7 separate regions of the Homo sapiens genome follow, and regions 1, 2, 4, 5, 6 and 7 are each linked to region 3. Evidence: fine-mapped QTL for protein levels in blood plasma. A gene starts in region 3. Each other region holds a variant in brackets. All regions are shown on one strand. Distances are between the middles of the regions.

The links. PIP is the posterior inclusion probability: the model's chance that the variant is causal. The UK Biobank Pharma Proteomics Project read protein levels with antibody pairs (Olink). The fine-mapping took linkage between variants from a reference panel, not from the people measured, so its PIPs are less certain.
Region 1: its variant is fine-mapped to the plasma level of the GSTT2B protein (UK Biobank, PIP above 0.99).
Region 2: its variant is fine-mapped to the plasma level of the GSTT2B protein (UK Biobank, PIP above 0.99).
Region 4: its variant is fine-mapped to the plasma level of the GSTT2B protein (UK Biobank, PIP above 0.99).
Region 5: its variant is fine-mapped to the plasma level of the GSTT2B protein (UK Biobank, PIP above 0.99).
Region 6: its variant is fine-mapped to the plasma level of the GSTT2B protein (UK Biobank, PIP above 0.99).
Region 7: its variant is fine-mapped to the plasma level of the GSTT2B protein (UK Biobank, PIP above 0.99).

What each region holds. Positions count from the first base shown.
Region 1 is chr22:24,350,523-24,354,588 of GRCh38, forward strand. All of the region lies in intron 11 of SPECC1L (sperm antigen with calponin homology and coiled-coil domains 1 like), which reads left to right. The region is part of intron 12 of SPECC1L-ADORA2A (SPECC1L-ADORA2A readthrough (NMD candidate)); the gene reads left to right. Among named protein-coding and RNA genes, the nearest start is that of ADORA2A, 75 kb to the right of the region's middle. The variant A/G (reference allele first, on the strand shown) is at 1,948.
Region 2 is chr22:24,250,493-24,254,558 of GRCh38, forward strand. It overlaps the pseudogene POM121L9P. Among named protein-coding and RNA genes, the nearest start is that of GGT5, 7.4 kb to the left of the region's middle. RefSeq lists an enhancer at 1,089-1,589. The variant G/A (reference allele first, on the strand shown) is at 2,194.
Region 3 is chr22:23,959,282-23,963,347 of GRCh38, forward strand. GSTT2B (glutathione S-transferase theta 2B) reads right to left here and starts at 1,914. Exons shown (of 5, transcript NM_001080843.4): 1 at 1,739-1,914; 2 at 1,013-1,100. The coding sequence starts at 1,850. RefSeq lists an enhancer at 135-800.
Region 4 is chr22:24,383,463-24,387,528 of GRCh38, forward strand. The region is part of intron 14 of SPECC1L (sperm antigen with calponin homology and coiled-coil domains 1 like); the gene reads left to right. All of the region lies in intron 15 of SPECC1L-ADORA2A (SPECC1L-ADORA2A readthrough (NMD candidate)), which reads left to right. Among named protein-coding and RNA genes, the nearest start is that of ADORA2A, 42 kb to the right of the region's middle. The variant C/A (reference allele first, on the strand shown) is at 1,680.
Region 5 is chr22:24,377,744-24,381,809 of GRCh38, forward strand. The region is part of intron 14 of SPECC1L (sperm antigen with calponin homology and coiled-coil domains 1 like); the gene reads left to right. The region is part of intron 15 of SPECC1L-ADORA2A (SPECC1L-ADORA2A readthrough (NMD candidate)); the gene reads left to right. Among named protein-coding and RNA genes, the nearest start is that of ADORA2A, 48 kb to the right of the region's middle. The variant GA/G (reference allele first, on the strand shown) is at 1,647.
Region 6 is chr22:24,408,371-24,412,436 of GRCh38, forward strand. It overlaps SPECC1L (sperm antigen with calponin homology and coiled-coil domains 1 like), which reads left to right. Exons shown (of 17, transcript NM_015330.6): 15 at 3,218-3,334. SPECC1L-ADORA2A (SPECC1L-ADORA2A readthrough (NMD candidate)) reads left to right here. Exons shown (of 20, transcript NR_103546.1): 16 at 3,218-3,334. Among named protein-coding and RNA genes, the nearest start is that of ADORA2A, 17 kb to the right of the region's middle. RefSeq lists enhancers at 19-520, 521-1,020. The variant G/A (reference allele first, on the strand shown) is at 1,944.
Region 7 is chr22:24,461,796-24,465,861 of GRCh38, forward strand. The region is part of intron 3 of ADORA2A-AS1 (ADORA2A antisense RNA 1); the gene reads right to left. Among named protein-coding and RNA genes, the nearest start is that of ADORA2A-AS1, 31 kb to the right of the region's middle. The variant G/A (reference allele first, on the strand shown) is at 2,040.

The DNA of each region.
Region 1 (4,066 bases), 390 kb after region 3:
TAGCACAAGTGGCTGAGAATGATAGCTCTCATTGGCCCACAAGTCAAAGATTTTAGACGCCTGAGTTGCCTGCAGGATTTTGCTTAGCTGCCAGCAAATAACTAAAGCACCTACACAAGTTGTGTCCTAGGCATCTTTAAAAAGCTCTATGTGTTGAAGGCAGAGATGGTAACCAGGAATTCAGGAACGTTTCCACTCTGCTGCTTGGTAGGTGTGCCCTAGTTCTGTCAATAGTCAGCCTTTTGACCTTCTTCAGTCTGCGTTAAGTGTGGTCAGAGCCAGTGCAAGTCTGCAGCAGCCTCTGAGGGTAAGTATAACCCTGTGCCAGTACCCTAAAGCTGTGAGTCCAGCCTGGGCACGGTGGTGTGGCTGCAAGCCTGAGAAAGCCCAGGAGGAGAGACCCCTATCAGAGGGCACTGAGGTGATCCTGGGGCATCAGAGGACAGTGACGCTCCATGTTCCAGGTGGCCTCTGAGGAGAGTGGAGTGCTGCACTGAGAAATGGCTCAGGGTCTTCCCATACCTCCTGAGCTCAGCTGAAGCCAACCCTCGAGGCCTTCTCCACTCTCCACTGCTGCTTTCCAGGCTTATCTTGATGGGGTTAGAGCAGGGCGAGGTTTACCAGGGGAAACCAGCACCAGTGGTGTGTCTCAAGCTTACCTGAGTCACTTGTTAAAATATAGAATGTTGGGCCTCCCCTCAGATCTAATGATGTAGACTCAGTAGCTTGGATATGCCATTTTCACAAGCACCCCAAGTGACTCTTAGGAATAAGTGAATTTGGAATATTATTGGGCAAAGACTACCGTTTAATTATTTCTGTTACCTTGGCTTTTGTGGGTGGAGAATGGGTGTGGAAGGTCTGTAGGCCAAGGTTATTGAAAACACAGATTAAATGCATTAAGATTCTATTCCTGGCTCTTATTTTATCATCTGGTGATGCATCAAACGGTAGTGCCAGCGGCATGGGGGTACATGCCGTCAGTCTATGTAAAAGCTGGTCTCATTCTCCACTTCAGTCTGTTGTCATGCCTTAGTGGAGTGTGGTTGAGACATTGCAAATACAGGAGAAAGGAAACACACTTAGATGAATCTATATCACAGTAGTTGATACTGTGATCGTTTATCTTAAACAGTCATTCAAGAAAAGAACCACTCAGAAAACTAAGAACAACCAAATGATTCGTGGCCATAAAAAGCCACTGTGGTTTTCCAAATTGTGATGAGAGTAGGATTTCTGAGCTCTGTCTTGAACTGCTTTTCTTCCTTGGTTGTCTTATTTACTTAGGGATGAATTTAAAAATACAGTGTGTAATTTTCGTTTAAAAAATTTAAGTGTCTTCATTACTGAAGTTTAAAAAGATGCTGCCTCTTGGAGAATGGCGTGAACCCGGGAGGCGGAGCTTTCAGTGAGCCGAGATTGCGCCACTGCACTCCAGCCTGGGGAATAGAGCGAGACTCTGTCTCAAAAAAAAAAAGATGCTGCCTCTTGCTCTACAATAGTTTTTTTTTTTAAATCTATTATCCTTTAGCATCATGCACTTGCAGGAAAATGTTTCATACCAGAGAAATCTTACTATAAATGCACTTAATCAAATGCTCTTTTGTTGGTATTACCAGCAGTGGAATTAAATGGCTAGGGTCATGACTGGTGCCACCTTAGTGAATCTTTGTAGATAGTATATGAATTAGCTTTATGCCCTAAGCTGAAAAGCACAGATTCTGCTGCCAAGTACATGGATACAGGTAGTTGGAAAGTGCACAGTGACCAGATGAGCTCCAGAATGTTAAGCATAAACCTCAGCTGGCTGGTGTAAATGGTTGAGAAGCCTGGGATTGCCCAGTGTCAGTGTGACCCTATCACCGTGTCTCTCAGCTCAGGCATATAGATGTCTTAAGAAGTTCGTTAGTCCAAGTGTAGTTGTGTTCTGTAAGGAAATTTCATACC[A/G]TTATTACCTGTCTAAATTGTGTTACTTGAGGCCAGAGATTTTTATAAACTGAGTATTTTGAAAAAAAAATGATTTATGTTAAGGGTACATACCATAAATTTGTATGAAGTTAGGAGGTTTTACTGGAAAGCCAAACCTTCTGTTTAAAAACTTTCACAGAATTTTCTTTTTTACTCTAAATCAGATTCTGCCTCAGCTTTAGATCTAGCCTTAGGCCATGAAAGTCCCAGGATAAAATGAGATAGAAATCCTACCCTCCTGCACTTTACAGTCTAATTGGATATTTAGTCACTCCCCCTTCTTCTTCCTCTTCCCTGTGGTTCTTGATAAAAATCAGAACTTATTTTTATCAATCTCAGCTCTTATTTTCTCCCCAACATATTATAATGAAAATTTTCAAACATACAGAAAAGTTGCAAGAAGTTGTGCCGTGAATTATCCACTTACTTACAGCCTAGATTCTGTGGCATTCTTTTATATTTGCTTTATCACAAAGTAAGTTATAATCACTACCCTTCAGCATGCATATCAGTATTTATGGTGTTCTGTCTCTCTGTGTGTTTCCTTTTGAAATAAGTTTAGACTTAACAAAAATATTAGAGTTCCCTTCCCCCAGCTTCCCTTATAGGAACATCCTACATAACTATAGAACAGTTACAAAAAGTAAGAAATTAATAGCAGTAAAATATTATTAACTAACCTACAGAATTTATTTGAATTTTACCAGTTTTTCCACTAATGTCCTTTTTTAATTCTAGAATCAAATTGAGGCTCCTACTTTCCATTTAGTTGTCTTATCTCTTTAGTCCCCACCAGTCTGCAGCTGCTTCTCACTCTTCCCCTGTCTCACATGACCTCAACACTTTTGAAGAATACTTGTCAGTTATTTTGCAGAATGTCTCTCAGATGGGCTTGTCTGATATTTTCTTCTGATTTAAGTTGAGTTTATGGAGTTTTTTTCGTTTTTTGTTTGTTTGTTTTGTTTTTTGAGTTTTTTGAGATAAGGTCTCACTCTGCAACCTCCGCCTCCTGGGTTCAACTCTCATGCTTTAGCCTCCCGAGTAGCTGGGATTACAGGCGCATACCACCACACTCAGCTAATTTTTTTGTATTTTTTGGTAGAGATGGAGTTTCACCATATTGGCCAGGCTGGTCTTGAACTCCTGACCTCAGGTGATCCGCCCACCTCGACCTCCCACAGTGCTAGCATAACAGGCATGAGCCACCATGCCCAGCCTGAGTTTATGTTTTAATGGAAGGGATACTGCAGAGGTGATGTGTCCTTTTCAAGTTATTTTATCAGGGGTACATGAGATTGATGTGTCTTGTTACTTCTGATGTTAAATTAACTTTGTTCACTTGGTTAGGTGATTGGCTGCTAGGAATTAGTAAATATCTTTGTGTTAGTCCATTCTTGGATTGCTATAAAGAAATACATTAGGCTGGGTAATTTATAAAGAAAAGAGGTTTAATTGGCTTACAGTTATGCAGGCTGTATAGGAGGCATGGTGCCAGCATCCGCTCAGCTTCTGGTGAGGCCTCAGGAAGCTTACAGTCATGGTGGAAGGCAAATCAATAGCAGGAATGTCACATGAAGAAAGGGGGAGCATGAGAGAGAGGAGAGAGGTGCCACACACTTTTAAACAACCAGATCTCACAAGGACAGCACCAAGCCATTCATGAGGGATCTGCTCCTATGACCCGGGTACCTCCTACCAGGCCCACCTCCAACACTGGGGCTTACATTTGAGCATGAGATTTGGAGGGGACAGACACCTAGACTATATCAGTTTTGTTCCTTCTTAAACTTTCTCTCACTGATTTCAGCATTTATTTATGCATTTTGCCCACAACAGTTATTACCGTGGTGTTTCAGTGGTGGTTTTCTATTTCCTTATTCCATCTGTAAGGAATTATTTATATGTATTATTCTATTGACATCATTCATTTATATTAGTATAGACTCATGGATATTTGTTCTTTGGATTATAATCTACTACCATTTTTATTTGTTTTGTTGTCAGGTTATTCCATCAGTGGCTGTTGAGAGATCTTTCACATTGACTCCTTGCTTTCTCAATGCACCTTCCCTCCACCCCTGAAGTACTTTCTGGCACT
Region 2 (4,066 bases), 290 kb after region 3:
CCTGGCCAAGGTCCCCAAGGCAGTGGCGAGGAGGAGATGAGGAGGTCAAGGAGGAGACAGAGGATGGACCCGAAGGCCGAAGAAAATGCCTCAAGGGAGTTTCAACACCGGGCGCGGTGGCTCACGCCTGTAATCCCAGCACTTTGGGAGGGGGATCACGACGTCAGGAGATGGAGATCATCCTGGCTAACACGGTGAAACCCCGTCTCTACTAAAAATACAAAACATTAGCCGGGTGTGGTGGCGGGCGCCTGCAGTCCCAACTACTCCAGAGGCTGAGGCAGGAGAATGGCGTGAACCCGGTAGGCGGAGCTTGCGGTGAGCTGAGATCAGGCCACTGGAATCCAGCCTGGGCGATAGAGGGAGACTCCATCTCAAAAAAAAAAAAAAAAAAAGAGAGAGAGTCTGGCTCTGTTGCCCAGGCTGGAGTGCAGTGGCGCGATCTCGGCGCATCACAATCCCTTCCCCGCCCGCCCCCGGGTTCAAGTGATTCTCCTGTCTCAGCCGCCGGAGCAGCTGGGACTACAGGCGCGTGCCACCATGTCTGACTAAATTTGTATTTTTACTAGAGACGGGGTTTCACTATGTTGGCCAGGCTGGTCTCCAACTCCTGATCTCGTGATCCGTCTGCCCCGACCTCCCAAAGTGCTAGGATTATAGGCATAAGCCACCACGCCCGGCCTCTTTTTTTTCTTTTTCTTTTTTTTATCTGGAGACTGAGTTTTGCACTTGTTGCCCAGGCTGGAGTGCAATGGTGCGATCTCAGCTCACTGCAATCTCCACCTCAGCAGGAGAGCAGGAATCTTCAGTGATCCACGGGCAGATCTGCCACCATTGTGGGCACCTGTTCCTCCCGCAACCTTTGTGCCCGCCTCTCTCCTTCCAGTACCTATTGCATGACCCCCCACGTCCGCCTCCCGCCATTGCCAGCAAGTGCCTCGCGCGGGTACCTGGCTGCGCTTATTAATCCGTTAAGCTCGCTCTGTCACGGGCGCCGTGATGTGCTCACGCGCCCACTCCCTCAGGTTTAAAAGGCGCGTTGCCCGGCAACAGAAGAAACTGCTGGCTTAGCCTTTGGCGGAGTTGGCGGCTGGACGAGGACGCTCAGAGCCCAGCTCTCGAGAGTTCAAGCAACCGACGGTTCCCCACTGCTCCCAGGAGCGGTTACCTGGGCACTCTGTGCCCCTCCTTCCTGTTCGGGCCCAGGCCGAGGACCTGCCAGTAGGGCTCAGTTGCCTGGAGCCCGTTCAGCCCATCCCCCAGTTCACTTTGCCTGTGGGATCTCCCCGTTGCTCCTGCCCGTGGACTGAGTGGCAGGCCATCCTACAAGCACCCGGACACTTGACATCAGTGGTGTCAAGACAACTCTAAGAAGGTTTTCCGTGATCCTGCAAGCCCTGCGTTCCTTCCTGGGATCCTGCCTTCAATTTGATTGCACAGGTACCACAGCAAGCCAGTGCTGTGTGCTCCGAGTTCCAGGGCGTCCTCCAGCTCAGCCACTGCACTGAGAACATGGACTCTCTGTGGGGCCCAGGAGCCGGGAGTCACCCCTTTGGGGTCCACAACACCCGGCTGTCCCCAGACTTGTGTCCAGGGAAGATAGTGTTGAGGGCCCTCAAGGAGAGCGGGGCAGGGATGCCTGAGCAGGACAAGGACCCTAGAGTCCAAGAGAATCCTGGTGATCAGAGAAGGGTCCCCGAGGTCACCGGGGATGCACCGTCTGCATTTCGGCCCCTGCGGGACAATGGAGGCCTCTCTCCCTTTGTGCCCGGGCCCGGGCCTCTGCAGACAGACCTCCATGCCCAGAGGTCAGAAATCAGATATAACCCGACATCCCAGACCTCCTGGACGAGCTCCTGCACCAACCGAAATGCCATCTCCAGCTCCTACAGCTCCACGGGAGGCTTGCCGGGGCTAAAGCGGAGGAGGGGGCCAGCCTCATCCCACTGCCAGCTGACCCTCAGTTCCTCAAAGACAGTGAGTGAGGACAGGCCTCAGGCTGTCTCTTCAGGTCACACCCAGTGTGAAAAGGCAGCAGATATAGCACCAGGGCAGACACTCACCCTCAGGAATGACTCCTCCACATCCGAGGCCTCTAGGCCCAGTACACACAAGTTTCCCCTGCTGCCACGCAGGCGAGGGGAGCCTTTGATGCTGCCACCTCCCTTAGAGCTGGGGTACCGGGTCACTGTT[G/A]AAGACCTGGACCGGGAGAAGGAGGCGGCCTTCCAGCGCATCAACAGTGCACTGCAGGTTGAGGACAAGGCCATCTCGGACTGCAGACCCTCACGGCCTTCCCACACTTTGTCCTCACTTGCAACAGGGGCTTCTGGTCTGCCTGCCGTTTCTAAAGCACCCAGTATGGATGCACAGCAGGAGACACACAAGTCCCAAGACTGCCTGGGCCTACTGGACCCCTTAGCATCTGCTGCAGGGGTCCCCTCTACAGCTCCCATGTCTGGGAAGAAGCACAGACCACCAGGCCCCCTGTTCTCCTCCTCAGATCCCCTTCCTGCCACCTCTTCTGATTCCCAGGACTCAGCCCAGGTCACCTCGCTGATTCCTGCCCCCTTCCCAGCTGCAAGCATGGATGCGGGCATGAGAAGAACAAGGCATGGCACTTCTGCTCCTGCAGCTGCCGCAGCAGCCCCTCCCCGCTCCACATTGAACCCCACGTTGGGGTCACTACTGGAGTGGATGGAGGCCCTTCACATTTCTGGGCCTCAGCCACAGCTGCAGCAGGTGCCCAGAGGTCAGAACCAGAGATCCCAGACCTCCTGGACCAGCTCGTGCCCCAAATGAAATGCCATCTCGAGCCCCTACAGCTCTACGGGAGGCCTCCCGGAACAAAAGCGGAAGAGGGGCCAGCCTCATCCCACTGCCAGCTGACCCTCAGTTCCTCAAACACAGTGAGTGAGGACGGACCTCAGGCTGTCTCTTCGGGTCACACCCAGTGTGAAAAGACGGCAGATACAGCACCAGGGCAGACACTCGCCTCCAGGGGTGGCTCCCCCAGATCCCAGGCCTCTAGGCCCCGTATATGCAAGTTTCCCCTGCTGCCACGCAGGCGAGGGGAGCCTTTGATGCTGCCACCTCCCTTAGAGATGGGGTACCGGGTCACTGCTGAAGACCTGGACCGGGAGAAGGAGGAGGCATTCCAGCGCATCAACAGTGCACTGCAGGTTGAGGACCAGGCCATCTAGGACTGCAGACCCTCACGGCCTTCCCACACTTTGTCCTCACTTGCAACAGGGGCTTCTGGTCTGCCTGCCGTTTCTAAAGCACCCAGTATGGATGCACAGCAGGAGACACACAAGTCCCAAGACTGCCTGGGCCTAGTGGCCCCCCTGCATCTGCTGCACAGGCCTGTAGTCCCAGCTACTTGGGAGGCTGAGGCAGGAGAACGGCATAAACCCGGGAGGCAGAGCTTGCAGTGAGCTGAGATCGCGCCACTGCAATCCAGCCTGGGTGACAGAGCGAGACTCCGTCTCAAAAAAAAAGAAAAAGAAAAAAAGTTCTTGTGACATTTGTGTATGAAATCAGCCTTCACTACATGGATAGGACCAGCACGCTTCCGCGGCACGACTCTGCAATCTTACTACATTTTTTTTATTTTGTATTTTTTTTATTCCTTTTGAGACAGTCTCACTCTGTCACCCAGGCTGAAGTGCAGCCGAGATCTCGGCTCACTGCAACCTCCACCTCTTGGGTTCAAGCAATTCTCCTGTCTCAGCCTCCCAAGTAGCTGGGACTACAGGCACACGTCAAAACGCCTGGCTAATTTTTGTATTTTTAGTAGAGATGGAGTTTTGCCATATTGGTCAGGCTGGTCTCGAACTCCTGACCTCAGGTGATCGACCTGTCTTAGCCTCCCGAACTGCTAGGATTACAGGTGTATATTTATTTATTTAAGATGGAATCTTGCTCTGTATTTATTAATTTATTTATTTGAGATGGAGTCTTGCTCCATCGCCCAGGCTAGAGTGCAGTGGTGCAATCTCGGCTCCCTGAAACCTCTGACTTCCAGTTTCAAGTGATTCTCCTGCCTCAGTGTCCCAAGTAGCTGGGA
Region 3 (4,066 bases):
CATTGGCCTCTAGGCCCGGCCTGGGTAGATTGGGTAGTCTGCAACAAGTCACTAGAGGCTCTTTTCAGCTAGCATTTGTTGAACAAATGCGCAACAGTGGAAAAATGTTCCCTTGTCTTCTCTTCTAATACCCTTCAGTCTGGGAGTGGAGAGGCCCTGCGGCTCAGAAAAGGCTGGAAGATGAGAGGTGGGGGGACATGTTCTGTCAGCCCCTGCTCATCCCGGTCACACCCCAAGCTGTACCTTCTCCCCAGATACCTCTCCTTTCTTTCTTTCCTTTTTTTTTGAGACGGAGTCTCCCTCTGTCGCCCAGGCTGGAGTGGGCTCCCTCTGTCACCCAGGCTGGAGTGCAGTGGTGCTATCTCTGCTCATTGCAAGCTCCGCCTCCTGGGTTCACGCCATTCTCCTGCCTCAGCCTCCCCAGTAGCTGGGACTACAGGCGGCCGCCACCACGCCCTGCTAATGTTTTGTATTTTTAGTAGAGACAGGGTTTCACCGTGTTACCCAGGATGGTCTCGATCTCCTGACCTCGTGATCCGCCCACCTCGGCCTCCCAAAGTGCTGGGATTACAGGCGTAAACCACCGCGCCCGGCCTTTTTGAGACGGAGTCTAGCTCTGTCGCCCAGGCTGGAGTGCAGTGGCGCGATCTCAGCACACTGCAAGCTCCGCTTCCTGGGTTCACACCATTCTCCTGCCTCAGCCTCCAGAGTAGCTGGGACTACAGACGCCCGCCACCACGCCCGGTTAATTTTTTTTCCATTTTTAGTAGAGACGGTGTTTCACGGTGTTAGCCAGGATGGTCTCGGTCTCCTGACCTCGTGATCCGCCCGCCTTGGCCTCCCGAAGTGCCGGGATGACAGGCGTGAGCCACCGCGCCCGGCCAGATCCCTCGCCTTTCCCCTCCCTCGCTGCCCCATGGGGTATGGGAGGGCCACTGGGGCCCGGGGCCAGTGGGGAGAGCCAAGGTCACATGGGCTCCGGATGCGGTGAGGGGTGAGGGAAGGAGGGCACCTTTCGGTCAAGATGAAATCACCATCCTTGAGCGTCGGCAGTTTCCCCAGGCTGTTGATCTGCAAGAACTCCTTGCTCTTGTGCTGCCCTGAAGAGGAAGAAGTCAGAAAAGGTCTTCAGAATAAAAACGCTGCACCTCTACACCCTCCCTCCTCCTCCCCAAGCGGAGCCCCACAGCCCTGAGAAACAGCAAGGTCTGGGACTAGAGGCCTGGATCAGCCTCACTCCCTGGCTGGGCCTCCCTGCCCTGCCACATTCCGGGGCAGCTGGGGGGCTTTGGTGGGTGGGGCCAGGTGCAGCAGGTGGATAAAGAGAAGTTTTCTAGCCGGACTCTGGTGGGCCAGGGGAGGGGAGGCAAACTGGGGTGGCTCATCTCTTCCCATCTCTTAATTCTCACAACAGCATGTCCTTCTTCCCAAGGTCTTCTGGGCTTTGTGAATTTATATGCGTGCATTCCACGCAAGAACTCTGTCAACTCCATTCAGTATTTTCTTTCCATCCCTACAGAGCAGAAGGTAACATTATCCTCCTTTTCAGAAGGCAAGCTAAGGTTCAGAGAGGCTGTGATCCCTCCAAGGCCACTCAGTCCACAGCATTCTCTGGTGGCAGACGCTGCAGGAGGAGGTGAGGGGGCTGTGCGGGCGGCGAGACGCTCAGGGCAGAGCAGGGCGGGGGCCTGGGGGTGCACTGGGTTTGTGGACACGCGGGGAAACGGGCTGGGCCCACCTTTGACCAAATCCACGGTGCGCAGCTCTAAGGGGATGCCATTCTTCTTGGCGAAGATGTAGACGGCGCGGCTGGGCTGGGACACCAGGTCAAGAAACAGCTCTAGGCCCATGGCGGGGGCGGCAAGGACAGCGGGGATGGCAGTGAAGGCGCTGAGCGCGGTGTGGGCAGCAGCTGTGGCAGGATCCCGGCGCGCCGGGAAATAGGGGATCAGGCCCCACCCCCTGGGGACAGCACCCAATTGGAGCGCACCACCCCCGGACCCGCCTCGCCCCTTCGGTTCCTGTCCAGTCCTGCCGGCCAAGACTCCACCACCAGATCCGTGCGTCCCTACAGGGAGGGCGGTCGCTATGAACGCACAGCTGGGAGGGTGGAGTTGGAGCTGGGGACCCTCGACTGGCAGGGAGGACGCGGATGCAGGGGGCCGACTGCAAGGGGAAGGGGAACCGGCTGGACAGGGAGAAGCAGGTCTGCTTTTCGGGATCCCGGTGCCAGGGACCCTGCCCAGTTCCAGGCGTCGCCCTGACCCAGAAACGACTGGGCGCCGCCGTCCTGGAAAGGCCCCAGCGCACGGACATCTGAGGGTTCGTTCAGAGCTCTGTTTCTCGGCGCTGCATGGTGGCGGAAGGGAGGGAGCGAATGGGATCCCCTAAAAGGGATCTTAGAGTTTCACCCAGTGGGATGTGACACTTGCAGGTGTCCCAAACTGGTGGGAACCTTGACTGGAAGGCTGGGGTTAAGGATGAACTTTCTGCCGTCCAGACTGTCCCCTGCAGAGCAGCTGCTGCCAGACAGCGGGAGCTGCCAGACAGCGGGAGCTCCCACTTCGTGCACAGGATGGGGGCAGGGAGCCCGCAGCCGCGGGAGGCAGGAATGACTGTCCGGGAACCTCCTTTCTTCTCCCTGAATCCCAGCCCTGGCATCTCACCAGGGGGCACAGTGATGGTCCAGGGCTGGGCCCGGGACTCTAGCTGAATCTTTCAGAGTATCCCATCCCTCTGGCCAGTGGCCCAAGCGAGTGAACCAGAATGCTTCCTTGGGAGTTTTGAAACTGGAACTGGAGAGAGGAGCTCCCTATGGGGAGGTAAACGGGAGCTGGGGCCACCTGTAGTGACATTTCCTGAGTTCGAGGAGTAGACGAGACTGAGAGAGAAAAGCTGACTCAGAGAAAGGGAGTGATAACAGGGCATGCTGGCCCACACCTGCAATCCCAGTTACTCTCACGGGATCTGTTTCTCTGATGTCTGGGTATGAAAGGACTTTCTAAGCCTCAGAACAGTGGGAGAACTCAACAAAGAAAAAACCAATACATATACAAGGTTACTTTGTGGAGGAAAAAATGGATTAACCTTAAGCAAAAAACTGGGAAGGATCTCGGTAAAAGATACGTCAGAAGGAAGTAATGTCCTTTAAGATGTTCTTAGAAACCCATCAGACAGGTAGGGTGTGGTGGTTCACGCCTGTAATCCCTGTACTTTGGGAGGCAGAGATGGGCGGATCAGTTGAGGTCAGGAGTTTGAGACCAGCCTGGGCAACACGGTGAAGCCCCGTCTCTACTAAAAATACAAAAATTAGCTGGGTGCGGTGGCACACTCGGGAGGCTGAGACAGGAGAATCACTTGAACCTTGGAGGCAGAGGTTTCAGTGAGCTGAGATCATACCACTGCACTCCAGCCGGGCCACTGAGCGAGACTGTCTCAAAACAAACAAACGAACAAACAAAAAGAAGAGAAACTCATCAGACGAAGACACAGGAAAAAAATGAGCGAAGGAAATCAGCAGAGGTTTCATTGAAGGACAAAGAGAAATGGTCAATACATGGATGAAAACATGTTTAACTTCAGTAATAATCAAGGAAGCACACACCAACACAACATGCACATACTGTTTTTATTTATCAAAGGCACACATATTTTTGAAATGAGTACTCCTAATTAATATGTACAGAGCACTTACCCAGTGCCCAGCACAGGGGTGGCACCCTGTGTGTGAGACAGCATGAAACAGGTAGACACGCGCCCTGCTGAAAGTAAGGGACCGCCTCTCTGGAGGATCCATCGGGCAATAAGGAGGTTTCCACACCTTAACTGTGTCTGCCTTGACCTCTGGGGCCTGGGAGCAGAGCCCCCTCCAGCTGGTGGGGAAGGAAGCGTGGTGTGTTTGAGGACAGAATGGAGAGAAGTTGAGTAGAGCAAGTGTAGACTCTTCCTATCCAAAGTGTGGTCAATGGACTGGGAGTATCAGCATCACCAGGGAGCTTGTTGGAAATGCAGAGGCTCAGGCCCCACTCTGACCTTACTGATTGGGAGCATAAACTGTAACCAGATT
Region 4 (4,066 bases), 420 kb after region 3:
ATGAAAATCAAGAGAAAGAATGAGTAACAAGAAAAGAAGAGGTGATCCAGATATTGGAACCCTTAGATAGGCTTTTAAAATAACCAATTTATGAGTTTAAGGAAACAGATGAAGAGATAGAGAGTTTTACCGGAGAACTGGAATCTGTAAAATAGAATCAAATCAAAATTTTATTTTATTTTTTGATTTTATTTTTTGAGACAGAGTTTCATTCTTCTTGCCTGAGTACAATGGTGCGATCTCGGCTTACTGCAACCTCTGCCTCCCAGGTTCAAGTGATGCTCCTGCCTTAACCTGTTGAGTAGCTGGGATTACAGGCACCCACCACTATTTTTTTTTTTTTTTTTTTTTTTTTTTTTTTTTTTTTTTTAGTAGAGATGGGGTTTTGCCATGTTGTCCAGGCTGGTCTCGAACTCCAGACCTCAGGTGATCCGCCCACCTGGGCCCCCCAAAGTGCTGGGATTACAGGCGTGAGCCACCGTGCCTGGCCCAATGAAAATTTAAGGACTAAAAAATTCATTAGCTTGAGCTAGGAACTCCCATATATGTGTTTCACAACCACTGAACACAGAAAAGACTTGTGAATTAGAGGATTGATCAGTAAGAAATATCCACAGTGAAGCACCGAGAAATGAAAGGATGAAAAAAACATAGTGTAATGGAGACAAGGGACATAATAGAAGGGTTAAGACACATACAATTGGGTTATACCAAAAGAGAGGGCTAGGAGTGTCATAAGTGCTAAAAGTCAAGGACAGTGAAAAAAATATTTAATTGCTAGAGAAAAAAGATACTAGGTTAAGAAGAATAATGGGATCAACAGCCGATTTCTCAATAGGTAACAGAAAGAGGATTTGTCACCAGCAGGCCCATTCTGAAAGAAAAAGGAAGTTCTTGTAGCAGAAAGAAAATAATCCCATAGGGAAACAAAATTTCAGGAAGGAATAAAGAACAGTGGAAGAGTAAATGTGAAAGTAAATATATATGAATATTGACTGCAGTGTAATAAAAATATCTTGTTTAAAGATATATGTAGCTTGAAAATTTAAGATAAAATGGTTTAAAAGTTAGGAGGGGGACAGTAAATGTAATTAAGGTGTTGCAAGGTCTTTGAATTGTTCAGGAGGTTAGGAAATTAATTTGTCATAGACTCTGAATAAGTGAAGGGTTTCACATTGTAAATCTCTAGGGCTACACTCTGCTACAGTTGACGTTGGCTGCATGGAGTTACTGAGAACTTAAAATGTGGCTATTCTGAGTTGAGATGTGCTGTGATTATAAAACACCAGATTTTGAAGACTTTGAAGACTTAATATAGAAAAAGAGAATGTAGGCCGGGTGCGGTGGCTCACGCCTGTAATCCCAGCACTTTGGGAGGCCAAGGTGGGCGGATCATGAGGTCAGGAGATCAAGACCATCCTGGCTAACATAGTGAAACCCCGTCTCAACTAAAAATACAAAAAATTAGGTGGGCACCTGTAGTCCCAGCTACTTGGGAGGCTGAGGCAGGAGAATGGCTGAACCCGGGAGGCAGAGCTTGCAGTGAGCTGAGATCGCGCCACTGAACTCCACCCTGGGGCACAAAGCGAAACTCCGTCTCAAAAAAAAAAAAAAGAAAAAAGAATGTAAACTACCTCATTTAAAAAATTTAAAAAATACTGATTACATGTTGAAATGAT[C/A]ATATTTTTAATATATTTGATAAAATATATATTTTTTGACTTTTTCAGTGTGGCTATAATATTTAAAATCACATATTAGCAAAGTAATAAAAGAATGGAAAATAAGGGGCTAATAGAAGATAAGTAGAATATTAATACTTGATTCATCCAAAATAAGGCAGGAAAGGAGAGAAAAGGAACAAAGAACTAAAGGTATAGTAATAGATGTAAATCCATATATGTAAAAATCACATTATAGGTAAATAGGCTGAATATTCCAGTTAAAAGACAAAGATTTTCATGTTAAAAACAATAGACTCAACCATGATTTGTGTATAAGAGACCCACTTTAAATGGAAAGACTGAAAGTAAAAGAGTTGGAAAAGATGTCCTATGCGAGCACTAACCAAAGGACTGCTGGAAGAGCTATACTAATTTCAAAGCATCATTTCTCAGTAAGAAATATTACTAGAGATTGAGATTGTCCGTAATGATAAAGAATTAAAACAATAACAATAGCCAAGGCACTCTTAGAAAACAACATTGGAAGACTTCATGCTGCCCAGTAAGACTTTAGAGGCACTGAGAGCATATCATAAATTCATATGCATCAGGTAACATAGCCCCAGAGAATATAAAGGAAAACTGATAGAACTAAAAGGCGAAATAGGCATATTTGGAGATTTTAACACGCTTCTCTCATTAACGAATAGAAAAAGCAAATGAAATTTAGTAGAGCTATAGAAGATGTAAGTAATGCTATTAACTACTTTGTCCTGACTGAGCTATAAAACACTGCACCAGACAATAGTGGATTGCACATTCCTTCTAATTGGCCACAGTATATTCATCAGAATTGGCCACATGCACTGTCAAAAGATTTCAATGAATTAAAGTCCTTCAGAGTAAGTTATCAAAATGGAGGGGAAAATGTGATCTAATCAAAGTAGATGAACAAAAGCATTTGATAAAATTTAACTCCTGTTTATTAGTTTCAAAAAAAAAAAAGCCCCACAGAACAAATTTCTAACAAACTGGGAATAAAGGGACTTTTAAAAAGATGATAAAGGGCATCTACAAAAAATATTTATAGTGGACATTAAGCTTAATGGTGACTTATTGAAAGCTTTCTTCCAGAGATGAGGAAAGAGACAAGACCCTGCTCTCATCACTTCTATTCAGTTTTGTATGTAAAGCTCTATTGGGAGGCTGAGGCAGGAGGATCCCCTGAGGCCAAGAGTTTGAGACTTGGCCTGGGCAACATAGTGAGACCCCCGTCCCTACAAAAAATTAAAAAATAAAGTTCTAGTCAGTGCAGTAAGGCAGAAAGAGAGATAAGAGGTATAAAATTGGAAAGAAAGAAATAAAATTGTTTCCAGACATGAGTATGATGTAGGAAATACTAACAAAGATGCATGTAAAATATGAGAGTTAATAGCAAGTGAAAAAATTTTCAGGATCTAATTATTATTATTGTTATTATTATTATTATTATTATTTTGAGACGGAGTCTTGCTCTGTCATCCAGGCTGGAGTGCAGTGGCGCTATCTCAGCTCACTGCAAGCTCCACCTCCCAGGTTCACACCATTCTCCTGCCTCAGCCTCCCAAGTAGCTGGGACTACAGGCGCCCGCCACCACACCCGGCTAATTTTTTTTGTATTGTTAGTAGAGACTGGGTTTACTGTGTTAGCCAGGATGGTCTTAATCTCCTGACCTTGTGATCAGCCCACCTCGGCCTCCTAAAGTGCTGGGATTACAGGCGTGAGCCACTGCACCTGGCCCTCAGGATCTAATTTTTATTAGCATTTAAAAAATAAATTATAGCCAGGCTTTGCTATGTCTGCAGCAGATTAGACACAGAAAGCCTGATTTAAAAAGCTGATAACACCAAGTGTTGGCAAGGAAGCAGAGAAACAAGAACACTTGCACCCTGCTGACAGGGCTCTAAACTGTTCTAGCCAGTTTGGAAAATGTTGGCAGTATCTGCTGAAGTTGAATAGTCTCCATAAGAATCAAAAGCTGGAAACAACCCAAATAATCATTAAGACGTAAATGGATAAATGAATTGTGATATATAAGGTACTACAAAACAAGCAAAAAAAAGAATAAACTGTTGCAACATGCAGCAGCATGGATGAATCTCACACATGTAATATTGAGCAGAAGCAGCCAGATGCACAGGAGTCTAAACTATGATTCCATTTAAATGAAGCCAAAACAGTGGTGAGATTAATCTATTATGATGTCAGAATAGTGGTTATCTTTAGGGGAACTGAGGGATCCTTTCTGGGATTCTGATTCATTCTGTATCTTGATTTGGGGGAGGCGACTACATGGTATATTCACTTTGTGAAAATTCTTTTAGCTGTACTTATCATTTGGGTACTTCATGTATATTGAGCAAAA
Region 5 (4,066 bases), 420 kb after region 3:
TACATTGTCAATGAGCAGTAATATTTTGAAAGGAACAGTGGGCTTAAAATGTTCGATAACTATGCTGTCAACAGATGTGCTGTCATCCAGGCTTTGTTGTTCCATTTATAGAGCACAGGCAGAGTAGATGTAGCATAACTCTTAAGGGCCCTAGGATTGTGGGACTGGTAAATGAGCATTGGCTTCCACTTAAAGTCACCAGCTGCTTAGGCCCTAATGAGAGAGACAGCCTGTCCTTTGAAGCTTTGAAGCCAGGCATTGACTTCTCCTCTGTAGCTATGAAAGTCCTAGATGTCATCTTCTTTTAATAGAAGGCTGTTTTATCCACATTGAAAATTGTTGTTTAGTGTGGCCACCTTCATCAGTGATCTTAGCTAGATCTTCTGGGTAACTTGCTGCAGCTTCTGTATCAGCACTTGCTAGCTTCGCCTTGCACTTATATGTTATGGAGATGGCTTCTTTCCTTCAATATCATGAGCCAACCTCTGCTAGCTTCAAACTTTTCTTCTGCAGCTTCGTCACCAATCTCAGCATTTATAGAATTGAAGAGAGTTAGGGCCTTGCTGTGGATTCAGCTTTGGCTTAAGGGAATGTTGTAGCTGGTTTGATCTTTTATTCAAAGCACGGAAACTTTCTCCATATCAGCAATAAGGCTGTTTTGCTATCTTATCATTTGTATATTCAGTGGTATAGCACTTTTAATTTCCTTCAAGAACTTTTCCTCTGCATTCACAACTTGGCTAACTGGCACAAGTGGCCTAACTTTCAGCCTTTTGGCTTTTGCCGTGCTTTTCTCAATTAGCTTAAGCATTTCTAGATTTTGATTTAAAGTGAAAGATGTGCGAGTCTTCCTTTTACTTGAACACTTAGAGGCCATTGTAGGGTTATTAATTGGCCTAATTTTAATATTTTTATATCTCAAGGAATAGGGAAGCCCAAGGAGAGGGAGAGAGACAGAATGGCTAGTCAGTGGATCATTCAGAACACACAGAACTTTATAGATTAAGTTCACTGTCTTATATGGGCACAGTTCATGGCACCCCAAAACAATTACTATAGTAACATCAAAGACCACTGGTCATACATCACCATAACAGTTATAATAATAATGAGAAAGTTTAAAATATTGCAAGAATTACCAAACTTGACCCAGAGACATTGAAGTGAGCACATACTGTTGGCAAGATGATACCAACAGACTTGTTTGATACAGGATTGCCACAAACCCTCAATTTGTAAAAAACGCAGGATCCATGAAGCACAAGAAGATGAAGTACCATCTGAGGTGTGTCTGTATTTTCTTCCATGCTGTTAGGTGTCTTCATATAACCTAAGTTTTAAATTTTGCTAGACAATAACTTAAATTAAGTAATTTTAGAACATTATAAATTACTTCCCCCTTGAAGGATCGCTTGTGATTAGGAGTTTGAGACCAGCGTTGGCAACATAGTGAGATCTTCTCTCTATTAAAATTTAAAAAAAAAAATAGCCAGGCATGGTAGCAATCCTCCTACCTCAGCCCAGCTACTTGGAGGGCTGAGGCAGGAGGATTACTTGAGCCGGGAAGTTGAGGCTGCTGTGAGCCATTATTGTACCACTGCACTCCTGCCTGGACAACAGAGCAAGACCCTGTCTCCGAGAAAAAA[GA/G]AAAAAAAAAATTTACTTCCTCTTGATTATAGAACTTTCCCATGTATCAGGTTGATTAAATGGAGATAATTCAAACATTAAGTCAGTTATTCCATGCCTCTTGGATTCTTCTATGTTTACCTTAATATATAGAGAGAAATATATATACATACAAATAAACTAATAATTTGAAGTTTTTTCCATTTACTTGGTACTTAAAATGCAGGGGGAAATATGATATAGGATGGTTAATCATACATTAGGAAAATTCTTTTTGTACACTTGACAGTCTTGGCTACAAACCCAATTCTCTGCTTTCTCATTTCCTATCGACACTTCTTTGATGATACATATGTATGGCTTGTGGGAGGCAGTTGGCTTTTGTTTCCTGTGAGACAGATATCTATCTGTTCCTTCCCTTTAGAAGCAAAGAGGATACTGGTTCTTTCATTGCAAGATCTGTAAGTTAACATTGGACAGCCTGAAATGCATAATCTTTTGTTTTTGTTTTTGAGACAGAATCTCACTCTGTCACCCAGGCTGGAGTGCAATGGCACAATCTCGGCTCACTGCAGCCTCCATCTCCTGGGATGCATCTCCATCTCCTTCTCCTGCCTCAGCCTCCAGAGTAACTGGGATTACAGGCACCTGCCACCCCGCCCAGCTAATTTTTGTATTCTTAGTGGAGATGGGGTTTCACCATGTTTGCCAGGCTGGTCTTGAACTCCTGACCTCAAGTGACCCACCCTCCTCAGCCTCCCAAAGTGCTGGGATTAAAGGCGTGAGCCACTGCACCTGGTCTGAAATGCATAATCTTTTAAAACTGAAAGCCATATCTAATAGTGTTCTTAATTTGTCAAGAATCGTATGAGAAGTGCCAGTGCCCTTTGCCTGTCTAGCTATAAATGGATGATCATGCCCATCCTTTGGAGCCAGCAGTTTTGGTTCTGTCCTTTGGTCTCTGACTACTCACAGTCTGCAGAAAAGAGCAGGTTGTGACACTTGACTAGTTTATGAGAGCAGAAGCTGTTACGTGACACTTAGCACATACTGCTCCCAGAGGCCCCAGATGGATCATTAATGCTTGGAACGTGCGTGCTTTATGAAGAAGCCGTCTAATCAACGGAGATAGATTCCCTAATACCCATATCATCTTTCGTTAACTCTCTTAAGAGTCACCCTAAAATTACTGTGCTGATCACTGTAATTTCATTAAGCATCCATTACAAAACAAGCCCTTATGAGTTTAGCTTTTATTTAACAAATACATTTTTCTCTTTTAACTTGTGCCCTGCCATTTATCATACATTGAAGCTTTAGAATAGTAGAATATTTGTGTTGAAAACATCTTGGCATTCTGGTTTATTATCAGGTTTACAGATCTGGGACTGAAACCCCCACAAGGATAAATGGCTGCCTCAAGGCTGTTTTGTGAGTCCAGGGCATTATGTAACCAGCTTTCAGTACTATTGCTTTAAGGGTTGGGTCTTCCTTTTTTTCTCTTTTTTAAAAATTAGTGCCTCTGTTTATATACAATTATGTTTTTAATTTAAATATAGGGCTAACTCTAATAATTTTTAAGTGCTTATCATGAGAAGTGGTAATCCAGTTCCCTGCTTCCTTATCTCTAAAATTTCTGCTGTCCAGAGACAACCACTTTTAATTTTTTTAGCCGTTGTCTTTAGGGTTTGATGGTACAAGGTTGATAATACAAGAATAACCAACTGGAATAGGGAAAGTATTTATACTTTCAGTAAACTTTTCTTTGGTTTTAGATTTTATATCTAAGAGCTTGTGTTGCATCACTGTTTTCTTGCCCTGGAAAACCCTAACTGAATGTAATCAGGATGCCCCCAAAGGTTGATTTGAGAGCTTTATTTTGAATGAAAAATCTCAATGTTTTCTGATAAAATGCTAGACCTAGAAATGGATTGGTTAAATCTAAAGAATAATGAAATCACTTAATCTAGTACAAAATAGTTTAAATAAATGAACAAAATATTTTAGTGCTGCCTGAGGTAATTTAATCTCAGATTAACATTGAGAATACAGTTTTATTGGGGGATGTACTTCATTAATATGTGGGCCACTGAAGAAAAGATTGGATATTCCTTACTGGAGATAAGTGGAATTAAAAGAATTAATGGGTTGGACTGGTTTAGCAGGCGTATATTTATGTGTTATGCTTTACTTGAATTCTAAGGTTTTTTTCCTAATATAAAAGCTAATAATTGCCGGGGCGTGGTGGCTCATGCCTGTAATCCCAGCACTTTGGGAGGCCGAGGGAGGCGGATCACGAGATCAGGAGATCGAGACCATCCTGGCTAATATGGTGAAACGCCAGCTCTACTAAAAATACAAAAAATTAGCCAGGCGTGGTGGCAGGCGCCTGTAGTCCCAGCTACTCGGGAGGCTAAGGCAGGAGAATGGCGTGAAACCG
Region 6 (4,066 bases), 450 kb after region 3:
AGGGCGGGCCAGGCCTCTTGGGAATGTAGCAGGTCTTACCCTCAGGACTGCATCTTCGTGGCCAGAAAGTGTGAGGACTACAGACTGAGGCAGAGAGGATTCTCACCTGGCCTAGGTATTTGGGGAGGACTGACATCAGTGGATGCCTGGTGGCACACATTTAGGTAGCCAGGTCAGACTGTCGGCACACCAGCCACCAGAGGCTTGCTGCCACCTTCCCCTGCGACTCTTGGCAGGTTTGCGTTTCCTCGTTCCTTAATCTGGTCACTTTCCTCACAGCAGTTTATAACAATATCTCTGGGTCATATCAGAGAAGCTGGAAGCAGCAGATGTTCAGGTTAATGAGAGGAAATGGCCTGTGAAAGTAACTCTTGGGTCTGCTGTCCTTTGGAAGGCTCATGCTTTGCACAGACACTGGAACGTTCTGGGCACGTGCAGTCAGAAGCCAGACAATACATTCTGATGATGCAGGTGATGAGAAGTCAGCCTCGTGATCCTCCACGTGGTCTGCTGCTGTGTAAGGACACCTGCCTAGAGCTGTGAGGCTGGACTGACGGTCTCCCTCGCAGGGGCGGCCTGCCCAGCCTGCTTTACTTGGGTCCTTGCTGGTTGGACACATCCTTGCAGCTCTGAGCCTGGGTTCCCATGGCCCCCACCTGCCCTTGTCTCTGAGCCAGGTCCCTGACTTGGTGTTAGGTCCTAACAGTATATAAAGAGGGGTCAGGATTCGTAAAGTGCTTTGTAAACTTTGTAAGATTCTGTACAGATATAGTTAATAATATAATGATAATAATAGTGTTAACATCATTCTGTGAATCACTCATTCCTGGGAGGAGTATAAAGTGCTCCCCAGGAGCTGGACGGTTTGCATTGAATAATAAAATTTGGGCTTTCTCAGTCCTAAAATAATAAAATTTTAGGAAGCTGGCTCTTGGTGCAGTTGAAGGTGGCGTGAAATAATGAAAGTGGGACATGGTGGTGGGGAGGTGTTCTTGTTCAGCTTGTGGTGTCTGCATAAAGTGTGAATTAGGAAAATTGAAATGTGTAGATTCATCTTCATAAGGACTGTTGCAAATAAGGGTAACGGCTACATACCAGCTGAATTGCAGAATATTTTATATGATAAAATACTCTGGGCCAGGTAAGGTGGATCACACCTGTAATCCCAGCACTTTGGGAGGCTGAGGTGGGAGGATTGCTTCAGCCCAGGAGTTCAAGGCTGCAGTGAGCTATGATTGTGCCACTGCACTCCAGCCTGGAGACAAAGTGAGATCCTGTCTCTTTAAAAAGTAATAATAAAAAATGAATTATATATTCCTTTTATAGTTACAAATACTTTAAAATATGGAATAAGGTGCCCCTTAAAAGAAAGTCAAGGCTGGGTACAGTGGCTCTTGCATGTAATTTCACTGCTTTGGAGGCTGAGGTGACATCGCTTGAGCTCAGGAGTTTCAGACCAGCCTGGGCGACATAGCGAAACCTCATCTCTACAAAAAAACAAACAAAATTAGCTGGACGTGGTAGCACGTACCAGCCTGTAGTCCCAGCTACTCAGGAGGCTGAGGTAGGATTGCTTAACCCCAGGAGGCCGTCAAGGCCGCAGTGAGTCAACTCCACTCCAGCTTGGGTGACAGAGAGACCCTGTCTCAAAAAATTTTAAAAAGTTGAGGTGGTTCACCAAGAGGTGGCATGGAGAGCACATAGCCGGCCTTAATCGGCTCCTAATGCAAGATGGGGGCTGTCAGATGATGACACCTTCAAGTTACAGAGGTGTTTTGGTTTGTGGTTTGTGTGTTTTTTCGGAGATGGGGGGGATCTCACTGTGTTGGCAGGCTGGGGTGTAATGGCTGTTCACAGGCACAGTCATACCATGCTGCAGCCCTGAACTCCTGGGCTCAAGGGATCCTCCCGCCTCAGCCTCCTGAGTAGCTGGGACCACAGGC[G/A]CATGCCTGGCAGCAAATTGCAGAGGTTTTTGATGGACTGCAAGTCTTAGCTTAGAGTCCCTGATCTGGGAGGTCAGGCTGAGTCATAACTTTTCTTAACAGAACAGCCCTGCCCCACTCCTGTGCCCCATGCTTCTTTCTCCCTGGCAGAGTTGAGGCTACAGCCTGCAGGGCTGAGGAGCCCTGTACTCATCCCACCTCCCCACACCAGACACTAAAAAGACCAATGCACAGAGGATCGAGGCATTTAATCAGACCACTAAATTGCCTCATCAAAGACATCTTTAAGCGAAACCTGTATTTTCAGATTACTTTTTTTTAACCACAAGTTTGTGGTGGGGTACACTATAGCAATCTCCAGTACATGTGGTGCGTGGCCTGGACCAATGCTCAGGGGGCCACGTTGTTGCTCTCCTTGGCTTCTCACCATCCATCAGAGCAGGTGTCATTACAGTGAAAAGGGCAGAAGGTATCTTCATGTGTGGGCGCACTTTGAGATACACCCTGACTTGGAGGATCTTTGACATGCTTCAACAACCAATGGAGAATGAGTTGCATTTTAATACATGGTGCTTTAAAGGTCATTGATTACCGGCCAGGTGCGGTGGCTCACACCTATAATCCCAGCACTTCGGGAGGCCAAGGCGGGTGGATCACAAGGTCAAGAGATTGAGACCATCCTAGCTTACAGTGAAACCCTGTCTCTACTGAAAATACAAAAAAAAATAGCCGGGTGTGGTGGCACATGCCTGTAGTCCCAGCTACTCGGGAGGCTGAAGCAGGAGAAATCACTTGAACCCGGGAGGTAGAGGTTGTAGTGAGCCGAGATCATGCCACTGCACTCCAACCTGGTGACAGAGTGAGACTCCATCTCAAACAAACAAACCAAAAAAAACAAAAAACAAAAAAGGGGGGGTCATTGATTACCACCCACATCCTCTGGTCTGTACTGTCACCCCAACAGGTCATGGTAGAGGCCAGCTTCAGCAGCCTAGGGTCCTCTCTTTGTATGCAACAGCTAGTAAGTCAGCAAGACGCCACGTGTTATACCAGGCCCAGGCGTGACCACGTAGGGGCAGCCATCTACAGCTGGTGGGTGGGACGGGTTGGGGAGTCATAGATACCAGGTAGCCCTTGGACACAGCCGCCCTGCCCTGGTTTTGGTTTTGTGTTTTGGAGGCCATGCAGCATCTGAGGCCTCCTGCGTCCTCCTTGGCATCTCCTAAGAGGGTCCCAGCATGTGTTGGTTACATGTTTTTCTTCCTTTCCTTCAGAATATTGACATTACAAACTTCAGCAGCAGCTGGAATGATGGGCTGGCCTTCTGTGCCCTCCTGCATACATATCTCCCTGCCCACATTCCATATCAAGAACTGAACAGCCAGGATAAGGTAGGCCATGGAGGGCCAGCTCCTGGCACCCACCTCACAGGGTTGGAGGGCTGAGAACCAAGGGCAGCACCTGCCTCAGCAGGTCACATGCCACAGCGCTGGCTTGCGATTGCCTCGTGCCATCTGGGTCTTCTGGGATCAGGTCATTCATGCTGAGCCCACCAGTCCCTGTCCCACCTTGTGTGGAGTATTTGGTTGGTTCAGAATTCCCCAAGTGATATCATTCCTAGTGGGAGCAGCCAGTCCTTCCTGAGTGACTACATTTAGGATGAAGAGCTTCACCAGGAGGGGCCCAAGAAGCTCCGTGAAGGCAGGAGTAGTCAGGCAGTGCTGACCAGGCCAGGCCAGCCTCCTGCCACCTTGAGGAGGGCTGTCACTCCATAGCCCATTCTGCACTGTGGGCCTTAGAACTGGCAAGAAACACCAACCCTGTGCACTCCAGGGCATGGTTTAATGTTTCATCCAGATAGTTCCTTGGGGACAGGGTCAGGGAAGAAGCCCTACCCAGAGGGCCACTGGAGAGGATCCAGGCCCGCAGCCCCCACCCCAGTCCCCTGCTTCCCCCATGTCAGCCCCCAGCCCTGCAGACAACCCTCGAAGATCCCTGTGGGGGAAGCTCATTTGATGAGTGTTCCTAACTAGCTTTTGGGGGTGCGTGTTCAGGTGCCACAGCATTGGTGCGGCAGAAGTAGGATTCTTCAGGAGTGAGGAAAGAACGGGTGTTGGTGGGTC
Region 7 (4,066 bases), 500 kb after region 3:
TCACAGGTGAAAAAACAAAAGCCCAGTGAGGAGGGAAAAAATGTGCTTGTGATCACCACAGCTAAGCAGGAATGGAGCTGAGATTCAAGTCCCAGCACTGTGGGAACTCAATTGAGGGTAGGTTAGGGTAGACTAGACGGGCGAGGGAAGGCCACATCTTTAACTATTCAGAGGTGAACTTCAGGGTAACAGTCTTCTGAACTAACTAATAAAGTTTGGCTGTGGGGCAAGACGTAGTGAAAAGTATATGCAGTTATCTGGGTTCAAGTTCCACCTCTGCTACTTACCTGTGTGATCCTGGCCTAGCTACCTAATCTCTGAATCTGTTTTTTTGGAAAAAGAGATAATAATAATATCTACTTTACATAATTTCTGTCAGAATATAAGTAAGTTGGATATGGTATGTGAAAAAAATATTTTTCAAGATGTCAAATCTCATAGGTTGTTAATGTGTTTAGCCTAGCTCCCTTCTAGTAATATCTCATTCACTAACAAATCAACATAGTTTATTAATAATGGTTTATTCATCCAGTTAGTCATCACTTTGAAAATCAAATGGAAGAACTTTGAAAGGTAGGTAAGTTTTGATGGAGTAGAGCAGGAGGAAGAAAAACTGGGGAGTTAGAATCTAGGTGGGGAGGGCCAGGTTTGGTGGCTCATGCCTGTAATCCCAGTACTTTGGGAGGATCGCTCAAGCCCAGGAGTTTGAGCCAGCCTGGGCAACGTGGCAAGACCTCGTCGGTACTAAAAGTTAAAAAAAAAAAAAAATGTTAGCTAGGTGTGGTAGTGTGCACTACTTGGGATGCCAAGGTGGGAGAATTGCTTAAGCCCCGGAGGTCAAGGCTGCAGTGAACCAGGATTATGCCACTGCACTCCAGCCTGGGCAACAGAGTGAGATCCTACCTCAAAAACAGAAAAAAGAATCTGGGTGGGGGCATTGCAGGGGCCAGTCCTGAGGAGCCAAGGGCAAGCACAGAGAGGCCCAGGAGTCGGAAACCAGATTCCATACTCTGTGACTGGGAGAACCTGTTAACCCTCTTGGTCTGTTTCTTCATCTGAAGTGGAAGGATAATGACAGTACCTCTGCTAACTTGGAGGCTGCTGTAATATCACAAGACCATGGATGTGAAGAATTTTTAGGGATCATCAACTGCCATCTCCACAGATGGGAGATTATCATTCCTTTATAAGAGTATGGATGAGAGGGTAAGAGACATACTTGAAATAAACCTTGCCTATCAAATTGTCTCCCCTAAATTTATATTTTGAAGTCCTAATCCCCAGGGTGACTGTATTTGGAGATAAGGCCTTTAAAGAGGTAATTAAGGTTATATAAGGTCATAAGAGCAGGGCTCTAATCCAATAGGACTGGTGTCCTTCCAAGAAGAGGAAGAGACACCAGGGATGTATGTGCAGAGAGAAAAGGCCATGGGAGAACACAGCGTTAAGACAGCCATTGGCATGCCCAGGAGAGACACCTCACAAGAAACCAACCCTGCCAACATCTTGATCTTGGACTTCCAGCCTTCATAACTATGAAAAATAAATTTCCTGTTTAAGCCACCCAGTCTGTGGTATTTTGTTATGGCAGCCATAGCAGAACTAATACACCCACCTTACGGTTTTGCTTCCCTTACTCCTTCCCCCAGAACAAGTTCTCTCTTCATACGTAACGGCATTGCACAAAAATAGCTTCTGGTCAGCCAGTAAGGCAGGAGGCAGCGTGACTAATGGGCAGGACCAGGTGTTGGGACCTTGACCAGTCTACTGGCAGGTTGTACTCCTGAACTGCTAAGTGGGTGGAACCAGTTTTGTCTGTTCTTAGACACCAAGTTTGTCTTCCAAGATTCTGAGGCTCGACAGAATGATGAACTGTTTAAAGAGCTTTTAGTCACAGGGAAGGATTTAGGCCCATGATTAAAGCTCAACTTCCCCCTTTCTTATGTCCTGGGTAATTTGAATAATGTTGCCTTAAAAATAGGGGACAAGTAGGCCGGGTGCAGTGGCTCACACCTGTAATCCCAGCACTTTGGGAGGCC[G/A]AGGCAGGTGGATCACCTGAGGTCAGGAGTTCAAGACCAGCCTGGACAACATGGCAAAACCCCGCCTCTACTAAAAATACAAAAAAATAGCTGGGCGTGGTGGCACATGCCTGTAGTCCCAGCTACTGAGGGGGCTAAGGCAGGAGAATCGCTTGAACCTGGGAGGCAGAGGTTACAGTGAGCCGAGATCACGCCATTGCACTCCAGCCTGGGCAACAGGGCAAGACTCTGTCTCAAAAAAAAAAAGAAAAGAAAAGAAATAGGGGACAACATTTATATCCTGATTAGAAGCTCCTAAAGTAAATACATAAGCTTCCTTGGGATTAGATTGTCAGAAATTTCAAAAAACAAATCTGGTAACTGCATTATTCAGTCAACAAATTTTCATGGTCACCTACTATATGCCAACCTCTATTGTAAATTATACAGATACAATAGGAATAAAATAGACTTAGTTCCTTTTTTTTTTTTTTTGAGATGGAGTCTTGCTCCGTCACCCAGGCTGGAGTAGAGTGGCGCGATCTTGGCTGACTGCAACCTCCGCCTCTTGGGTTCAAGCGATTCTCCTGCCTCAGTCTCCTGAGTAGCTGGAACTATAGGTGCGTGCCACCATGCCCGGCTTATTTTTTATGTTTTTAGTAGAGACGGGGTTTCACCATGTTAGCCAGGATGGTCTCGATCTCCTGACCTCGTGATCCACCCGCCTTGGCCTCCCAAAGTGCGGGGATTACAGGCATGAGCCATCATGCCCGGCCAAAAATTTTTTAGACAGTACACCTGCAGAGGGCACATACCATGAATGGAACTTGCAGGACTGGAGGTTGCTCTGGGTGTGTCAGTGAGTGAGTGGTGAATGAATGTGAAGGCCCACGGCATTACTGTGCACTACTGTAGACTTTATAAACACTGTATACTTGGGCTACACTAAATGTATTTTTAAATTTTTCTTTCTTCAATAAATTAAGCTTAGCTTATAGTAACTTTTTGACATTATAAACCTTCTAATTTTTAACCTTTTGACTCTTTTGTAATAACCCTTAGCTTAAAATACCAAAACATTGTACAGCTGTACAAAAATAGCTTATTTATATCCTTATTCTATAAGTTTATTTCCATTTTTAAAATTTTATTTTTGTTTTACTTTTTAAACAGTTTTGTTTGAAACTAAGACAGACACATACACATTAACCTAGGTCAGGGCTATCCAGAGACCCTCCCTACCCAGGGTCAGGATCATCAATATCACTGTCTCCCATCTCCACATCCTGTCCCACTGGAAGCTCCATGCAATAATATGCATGGAGCTATCCTCTATGATAATACTACTTTCTTCTCAAATATTTCCTGAAGGATGTACCTGAGGCTGTTTTACAGTTAACTTTTTTTTCCTATAAGTAGAAAGAGTACACTCTAAAATAACGATTAATAGTATAGTAAATATATAAACTAGTAACATCATCATTTATTATGAAGTATTATGCACTGTATGTAATCGTATGTGCTATATTTTTATATGACTGGCAGTGCAATAGGTGTGTTTACACCAACATCATCAAAAGCACGTAAGTAATGCACTGCAATAGGATGGTATAATGGCCATGACATCACCAGGCAATGGGAATTTTTCAGCTCCATTATAATCTTACGGGCCCACCATTAGATGTGTTATGTGGCACATCACTGTAAAACTCTTTGGCCTGGCATTGAAAACCCAGTTCAATCTGGGCCTCCTACCCTCCTATTTAGATGTCTTTTTCCAACCAAGGGTCATCCCCAGTCAAACCTTTCAAAACTCCAATTCACTAACTAGAATGCTTACTATGCCTTACTTAAATCCTATCCATCTGGCAAGGTATGGCAGGCAGCCTCTAAGATGGCTCCCATGATCTCTGCCTCGTGGTATTCACATCCTTGTATGTGGGCTGAACTTGGTGACTCACTGCTGATAACAAGAATACAACAAAAGTGATGGGATATCGCTTCTGAGATTAGGTTGCAAAAGGAATGTGGCTTCCATCTTGGTCACG